Regions from separate parts of the Homo sapiens genome. Here regions 1 and 2 are each linked to region 3. Evidence: fine-mapped QTL for protein levels in blood plasma. A gene starts in region 3. Each other region holds a variant in brackets. All regions are shown on one strand. Distances are between the middles of the regions.

Region 1 (2,500 bases), 68 kb before region 3:
GGTCTACGCGGCTTTCCTAACACGAATCTTTGGTCCCCCCCAGTCTTTTTCTCATCTTCAGCAAGGCCAGAGTGGTTTTCCTTTGTTTTGATAGGATCAAAGGCTTCTCCTGAGACTGCGTCACTTCTGCAACACAGTAGATTCATTCCTTCGGTATCGGAAGCATTTCGGGGCGTTGGAGGCCGCTCTTGGCCAAAATAAATGACCCTGAAGCTTTTCGGAAGGCCATCCCCCGACCTATGGGCATACCTTTAAGAATTAGAAAAGTCTTTTCCGTGGTAGATCAAACGCGAGGGGAGTGAGGAGGCGAGCAAAAGATTGTAATGACTGAAGCTGTTTAATTGTGATTTGTGGACGTTTTCCTTTAAAGACATTGGCAGAGTTGGGCTAGAACCTGGAACTGCCGGATCTTGGAGTCATATCGGGCATCTATCATGAAGCCGAATAAAACCATAGAACCATCTGCCCATAAATCTCTGCCTGTATTAACTGGAGTGGTCGCTGGTTGGGCGGATGCTGTCAAGTACTTGTGATTTGATTTGTCTGATGCAATAGGTCTGCAACCATCTGGGAGCTAGGTCGATGACAGTACACTGCAAAGGCAGCCACTATCCAAGAGTGTGATGGATTTCTATTAGGAAAATTGATTTTCTCCTGTTTATAAGGATCTTGGATGTCAAAAGAATATTTGTTTAACTTGAGTTTTGTGCTGATTCTATGTCTTAGGCCCTCTATTGTAGTAGTTTGTTTGATTGTGAGATTCCACACTTGACCTGAAGTTTCGAGTTGCAATGGAATTTAATTTTGCCACATTTTTTGTTTAGGATAAAACTAGCCTGAGCACTGTTCTACTGAATCTGAAGTCAGGAGTATCAGATTTTTGTGTCAGTCCAGCCCTTAGCCAGTGCTAAATGACTTTGAATGTGTTAGCTAGTCTTTTGGGTATAATGTCCACATCTGAGGGATTTGTCCCTTATCTGAAAAGTAGATAGGTGGTGAGTTCTTCAGGGACAAGGATTCAATTTTATTCATACAGTATATATGTGGATATACATATACACATTTATACATAAAATCCCAGTACCTAGCACTGTACCTGGTCCTTGGTAAGGCCTTGATAAAGGTTTGTTAGAGGCGTGAATATTTTCTGTCTTCAGGGCACTTTATATTCTTTATGAAAAGCAGTTTATGTAGTTTATGTTATTGTTTTAAAAAACTTAATCCTAAATGTGAAGTCATTTCTTTTCTTTGTTTTGTTTTGTTTTGTTTTTGAGACGGAGTCTCTCATTATCACCCAGATTGGAGTGCAGTGGCACCATCTCGGCTCACTGCAACCTCCATCTCCCGGTTTCAAGAGATTATCATGCCTCAGCCTCCAAGTAGCTGGGACTACAGGTGTGCACCACCACACCCAGCTAATTTTTTTTTTTAGTTGAGATGGGAGTTTCACCATGTTGGCCAGGCTGGTCTCTAACTCCTGACCTCAAGTGATC[C/T]GCCTGCCTCAGCCTCCCAAAGTGCTGGGATTACAGGTGTGAGCCACCATGCCTGGCCAATAGTTTATTTCCAATGCATCTATTAATTTGATTCTTTTCTATTTGACAACCCTTTCCAATATTCTCTTTGCATCCAAATGGAATTTATGTTTTTTCCCAAGTTCCCAACTGCCCAAGGTAGACACTGGCAGATTTATATCAAGGTTCTTTGACATCTTGAACTTCAGATCAGAGGATGGAGTTCTTCTCTCATTGCCTTGAGCAAGGGCTTATAACCAGAGCCACATTAAGAACTCAGATCATGCTCCCTAATTGAGGACACATAGCAAGCTTCACCAAGCCCTCCACTACAACTATACCAATTTGTCTTCCTGTAGACTTACAAGGTACCACTAGGGTTCCTTTGGAGAACTCAGGAGTCCAGTATAACTTGGAGTGATAATACCACATTGGAACTCACAACTCTTCTAACTCCAGGGATTTGAATGTGATTTCTTCTTTTTAATTCAGAGTAGCGTAATGATCCTACACTTGGGCATATTTGTCTTGGCCCCACTCCCAAAGCAAATAGATTTCCATGTAACTGGAAATCTGCTGCAAACCCCAAGAATTTTATCCTCCCTCAAAAAGTGCTATCCTGAGTGGTTTTTTTTTTCTTTTTACTGTACATTGAAAATTGAAGTTGTTGTTTCCTTTTTTTTTAATTTGAGACAAGGTCTCACTGTGTCACCCAGGCATGATCACAGCTCACTGCAGCCTCAATCTCCCCAGGCTCAGATGATCCTCCTGCCTTAGACTTCTGACTAGCTGAGACTACAGGCGCAATGCCACCATGCCTGGCTAATGTGTGTATTTTTTGTAGAGATGGAGTTTCGTCATGTTGCCTAGGCTGGCCTCAAACTCCTGGCCTCAAGCGATCCTCCCACCTCGGCCTCCCAAAGTGTTGGGATTACAGGCATGAGTCACCATGCCCAGGCTAAAGCTGTTATTTCCTCATAACCTTTACT
Region 2 (2,843 bases), 22 kb before region 3:
CTGCCCCATTCCTGGGGGCTCCCCAGCTTCTCTCTCATACTCTTCCATAACCCAGACAAATCTAAGTGGAAGCCTGGTCCCATCCCCAGGGAGGGAAACTGATCTCAGTGCCTGAGAGGGACAAAAGCACCAGTGGGAAGGAGGGAGGAGGGAGGCTCCCAGCCCTCCCGCTGTCCTGCAGGCCCATCTGCTTGTGCACATTTACCCTCTTGGGGGCCAGGACACCCCCAGGTGTGCTTGGTAGTGTGACATCGAAGGCTCCCGGGATCCGGGCCTTACAACCAAGTGTCCCAGCAGGCCTGTGCTTATGAAACCCAAATGGGGTAGGGAAGGTGCTGGGGACTCCGAGGAACTTGCAGGGGAGCAGTGCGTGGAGCTGTGGCGAGAGCGGCTCAGTGAGCCAAACAGGGTGCCCATGAAGGGCTGGGGACCATAGGTCTCAGAGAAGATGGCACACGAGAGGAAGTGGGGATGCCTGGGAGGTTTGGGGAGTATTACGAGGGTCACGGGAGGCCATGGGAGCTATCACTGGGTTGTGGGGGGTCTCAGTTCCCCTCCTGTCCTCAGGTACTTGGTACTCACCTGCCTTTCCTCTTGTCCAGGTGAGCACTGTGAGGTGAGTGCTCGCTCAGGCCGTTGCACCCCGGGTGTCTGCAAGAATGGGGGCACCTGTGTCAACCTGCTGGTGGGCGGTTTCAAGTGCGATTGCCCATCTGGAGACTTCGAGAAGCCCTACTGCCAGGTGACCACGCGCAGCTTCCCCGCCCACTCCTTCATCACCTTTCGCGGCCTGCGCCAGCGTTTCCACTTCACCCTGGCCCTCTCGTGAGTGGCTGGGCACTGGGGGTGGGGAGTGGGCCTGGTGGGCATCTGAGGTGCCTCCTGTTCTGTGGTTGAAGTAAGAGGTCAGGCAGTGAAAGCGTGGAGCAGGCTGCCGGCAGAGCCAGGTCTGCTCTTGGAGTTGCCTGTGGTTCTGCCAGCAGATCTCCCTCCCCTGCGCTGGTTAGGTGGCGGGGGTGCTGGCATCCAGGTGGGTACCCCATTCCCTGCCCCCATCCCCAACTCCTGTTCAGGTTTGCCACAAAGGAGCGCGACGGGTTGCTGTTGTACAATGGGCGTTTCAATGAGAAGCATGACTTTGTGGCCCTCGAGGTGATCCAGGAGCAGGTCCAGCTCACCTTCTCTGCAGGTGATCACAGTTGCCCCCCATCCTTGCCCATCTTCCAAAGGCCCCAAGTCTTCCAGCCCCTGACCCCAAGCCACATACTCTATCAGCCAAATCTGGGCCCAGCCCCAGCCACTGGC[A/G]CCCCAAACCCTGCCATTCCTAGCCCTCGTCAGGCATTCCAGCTCACCTGGTCCTTTCCCCAGGGGAGTCAACCACCACGGTGTCCCCATTCGTGCCCGGAGGAGTCAGTGATGGCCAGTGGCATACGGTGCAGCTGAAATACTACAATAAGGTGGGTGTGGAGGGCACAGAGGGTTGGGGGTTCTGTTCTTGCCTCAGGTGCTTACCCAGCCCTGAGTGGCATTGCCTCCAGGCTTGGGTGGGCTGGTCAGGGCATTTCTGGCTGAGAGGAAGGGAGCGGCTGGGAAGGTGCCACCTTGCTGGGCATTCCCACCCCACTGGGCACTGCTCGATGCTCTCTGTTCCACTAGGCAGCCGCAAACTTGGACACTGAGGAAGGTAGTTACATGCATAAACCACGTGAGCACACGTGTGTGTATATGCATGTGTGTACGTGTGTCTGGGCATGTGGGTGCACACAGAGGCACCCAGTGTGTGCTGGCCATGAACCTAGTGGGCTCTGTACTCAGTGTCCCCCTTCTCTGCTCTTTCCTGTCCACAGCCACTGTTGGGTCAGACAGGGCTCCCACAGGGCCCATCAGAGCAGAAGGTGGCTGTGGTGACCGTGGATGGCTGTGACACAGGAGTGGCCTTGCGCTTCGGATCTGTCCTGGGCAACTACTCCTGTGCTGCCCAGGGCACCCAGGGTGGCAGCAAGAAGTGAGCAGGGGAAAGGGCCAGGGATGGGGTGAAGTGAGGGCAGGGCCAGGCAGGGAGGGAAGGTGGAGAGGGTGGGCTTTTGGGGTCTCTCTCCCTTTGCCTCTCTTAGCCCCTGCTCAGCCCTGGGGATGGGGTCAAGACTGGGGAATCAGAGCAAGGCCCTGTGGGGCAGTCTGGGGAGGGGGCTGAGTGTTCGACAAGAACAGTTCCAGGTAGGGGTGACGCCCTTCCTGAGCACTGCTCTGCAGGGCCTCTTGGACACCTGCCTACGCCGTTCGTGTCTCTGGCCTGGCGGCAGAGCGAGCGGAGGACCAGAAGCTCCCAGCCCTCCCTTGTGCCGCCACCATCTTTGCTCCCCCAGGTCTCTGGATCTGACGGGGCCCCTGCTACTAGGCGGGGTGCCTGACCTGCCCGAGAGCTTCCCAGTCCGAATGCGGCAGTTCGTGGGCTGCATGCGGAACCTGCAGGTGGACAGCCGGCACATAGACATGGCTGACTTCATTGCCAACAATGGCACCGTGCCTGGTATGGGGGCCCGGGGTGGAGCCAGGCTGGGATCCCAGTGCTGAGAGGAGGGGCTGTGCCTGGTGTGAGGATGCCAGAATGGAGGGTCTCAGAGGCCTCTCTAACTGCTGCCACAGGCTTTCTCTTTAGAGCCCCAGCTCAGGTCCACTGAGCTGCCTTCTCTCCATTCCAGGCTGCCCTGCCAAGAAGAACGTGTGTGACAGCAACACTTGCCACAATGGGGGCACTTGCGTGAACCAGTGGGACGCGTTCAGCTGCGAGTGCCCCCTGGGCTTTGGGGGCAAGAGCTGCGCCCAGGGTAGGAGGGGCGGCT
Region 3 (2,821 bases):
ATCATGCCCATGCAAAAGGGAACAGGAGATTATGCAAGGGAGACTGCATAAAAGCCCCACAACAGAGCCAGGGACATGACCCTAGGCCCCGATGCCCATGCTGGCTGTGAGATGTGGCCTCTGGGCGATGAGATACCTGGTTCTATGGGGCCTAATAGGCCTTTAGCATTTACGGACATCAGAAATGATGCCAGGATGGAGATGCAGCAAATCCACTTATCCTTCTTCTTAACACCCTGAAATCTAACTCCAGCTTCTCCCTTCTCTCCCCGCTACCAATAGTGTCATAGAGGCCCGAGTCAGCCAGCCGCCCAGCAGCCCCAAGTGCGCCAAACCTTGCTAAGTTACCAACCCAAGCCAATAATTCAGCAGTAAGGGATTCGAGACAAAGAGGTACTGTTAGAGGAAAATAAGTGGGATAAAGAGGCTGGTACCTGTCAGATGGTGACAGCCCCCCAAAGTCCAAGGTCTCATCCACAATAAACCTTACATCTGAAGGGGAAAGAAGAATGAAAGCCAGTCATGGGTCCCTGATGCAGCTCTCCATCGCTGGGTCTCACTCCTCCCTTTCATTCTTCCCTCCCTCCTTTCCTTACCTTCCTCCAAATCCTCCATGTCCAGCCAGCAGGAGCGAGAGTCCAGTTAGATCTGAGCTGGAGAGAAACCATACCTTTCCTCAGGTATCCATTCTGCCCAAGGCTCGCAGCTAGATTCAGGGTGCAAGCCAGGGTCGGGGGTCATGCTGGAGGCAAAGCAAGCGCCCAGGAGTGGCACCTCCCGCACAGCTACTCCTGCTACCTCCGGGAACGATACGGAGGGCTCCCCCAACTGCCCAGATTGCCCTGGAGCCGCCCTGCATCCTGGCCTCTCCTCACTGGGGGCGGCCTGCACGCCCCATCTTCCTCCCCGCCACTATCCTCAGGGTTCTGCACTCCCCAAGCCACCTTTCCACTCCCCTGGCATCACACGCGAAGCACACCTCCAGCCCACCCTGTGTCCACTTCCCGCGCCGCCTTATCTTCCACGCAACAGGCTTTCTCCCGCAACCTAGTCCCGGGAATCAGCTCCGAGGGGGCGGGGCTCCTTTCGAATCTCTCAGGCCCCACCTACTCAAGCCACACGCGCACCGTGATTGGTGAATCCTCAGGGGGAGGGGCTGAGGAGCTGCCGGCCGGAAGTCAGCCGGTGGGGGCTGGGGGAGAACCGTTCCCAGAAGACTGCATCCCGGTGGCGGAGCCGAGGGTTGAGGCTGCGAGTGCGCGTGCTCGCGTGCGCGGAGACTCTCTTTCCCGTAGGCAGATGGGAGCAGAGCGCGGCTGGCCAGGAGGGAAGAAACGGACCCACGAGTATGGAACTCGCGCCCCGCCCCGCTCCCTCTGCTGGGCCGCCGAGCACCCAGTCTCCAGAACGGTTGTGCTGCCTAACGTGGCCGCTAACCGACGCTCTACGGGAGGAAATTCGTTTTCTTGGGCGCACTCAATATGCAGGCGCCGCATTGGCCGAGGTTCCTCAGTTGTGGGTTTTTTCCAAGTTAAGGGAGCACCTAAACACTTATATTGTAGGTATATTGAGGTTCTCTTAGAAGTACATCCTCCATCGCCTCTTCAAGAACCTGAGGCAGCTGAGGTGCAAAGAAAGCAACGGGCTTTTCACGCAGGCAGGCTTAGGTTCAAATGCAACCCAAGTTTAACTGACCTCAGAACCCAAGTTTCGGTTTAGAGGCGGCTGCCTTGAGTATATTTGCCCTCTTTTCACCTCTCTTCGCTTATCTGTGAAAGGAGGATGTTGGTCCTCGCAGTTACGGTGTTACGAGGATAATTATGAAGGCGTTTTCTACCGTGTGCCCTTAGGGGATTTAGAGGGGGTGTTTGTAAGTAGCCCCCTCTGAACTAAAAGCAGTATTTGTAAAATGCTTAAACCAACTTGTTAGGAGTGTTGTCTCTGTTGTTTCTAAATGTTGCCCGGGCCACCAGTGAACTTGTCAGAGGCTTCAAACCAGAACGACTCCATCTGGAATAGAGGCTGGGTAAAATAAGGTTGAGACCTGGGCTGTATTCCTAGGAGGTTAGGCATTCTAAGTCACAGGATGAGATAGGAGGTTGGCACAAGATACAGGTCACAAAGACCCTGGTGGTAAAACAGCATGCGGTAAAGAAGCCAGCCAAAACCTACCGAAACCAAGATGGCGATGAAACTGACCTCTGGAGGTCCTCAGTCCTCATTATACGCTAATTATAATGTATTAGCATGCTAAAAGACACTCCAGACAGCATCACCACGGTTTACAAATACCATGGCAACATCAGGAAATTACCCTACATGGTCTAAAAAGGGGAGGAATTCTTAGTTCCAGGGAGTTGCCTACCCCTTTCCCGGAAAACTCATGAATAATTCATCCCTTGTTTAGCATATAATCAAGAAATAACCATAAAAATGGCCAACCAGCAGCCCTCCGGGCTGCTCTGCCTCTGGAGTAGGCATTCTTTATCCCTTTTCTTTCTTAATAAACTTGCTTTCACTTTATGGACTTGCCCTGAATTATTTCCTATGCAAGGGCCAAGAACCCTCTCTTGGGGTCTGGATCCGGACCCCTTTCTGGTAACAACAGGAGGAGACAGCAGGTCCGCACAAGATACAGATCTCAAACATCCCTCTAATAAAACGGTGCAGTAAAGAAGCCGGCCAAATCTGCCAGAAACCAAGATGGTAAAGAAAGTAGGCCAGGCGCGGTGGCTCACGCCTGTAGTCCCAGCACTTTGGGAGGCCGAGGCGGGCGAATCACGAGGTCAGGAGATCCAGACCATCCTGGCTAACACGGTGA

Which allele goes with the higher level. Positions count from the first base shown, and alleles are read on the strand shown. Strength reflects both the effect of a copy and how common the allele is. Not every link is listed here.
With allele T in place of C in region 1, the plasma level of the protein whose gene starts at base 1,062 in region 3 is higher (moderate association).

Evidence for each region. PIP is the posterior inclusion probability: the model's chance that the variant is causal. Protein levels are from antibody-based Olink assays in UK Biobank. Linkage for the fine-mapping came from a reference panel and not from the study's own genotypes, which makes the PIPs less certain.
Region 1: its variant is fine-mapped to the plasma level of the PSRC1 protein (UK Biobank, PIP 0.97).
Region 2: its variant is fine-mapped to the plasma level of the PSRC1 protein (UK Biobank, PIP above 0.99).

Annotation. Positions count from the first base shown.
Region 1 is chr1:109,214,453-109,216,952 of GRCh38, forward strand. The region is part of intron 1 of SARS1 (seryl-tRNA synthetase 1); the gene reads left to right. Among named protein-coding and RNA genes, the nearest start is that of SARS1, 1.8 kb to the left of the region's middle. The variant C/T (reference allele first, on the strand shown) is at 1,494.
Region 2 is chr1:109,260,440-109,263,282 of GRCh38, forward strand. It overlaps CELSR2 (cadherin EGF LAG seven-pass G-type receptor 2), which reads left to right. Exons shown (of 34, transcript NM_001408.3): 3 at 603-825; 4 at 1,074-1,189; 5 at 1,369-1,457; 6 at 1,848-2,005; 7 at 2,367-2,530; 8 at 2,703-2,828. Among named protein-coding and RNA genes, the nearest start is that of CELSR2, 12 kb to the left of the region's middle. RefSeq lists an enhancer at 368-867. The variant A/G (reference allele first, on the strand shown) is at 1,306.
Region 3 is chr1:109,282,084-109,284,904 of GRCh38, forward strand. It overlaps PSRC1 (proline and serine rich coiled-coil 1), which reads right to left and starts at 1,062. Exons shown (of 8, transcript NM_001032291.3): 1 at 980-1,062; 2 at 597-653; 3 at 435-492. The coding sequence starts at 615. RefSeq lists enhancers at 1,431-2,156, 1,524-1,573.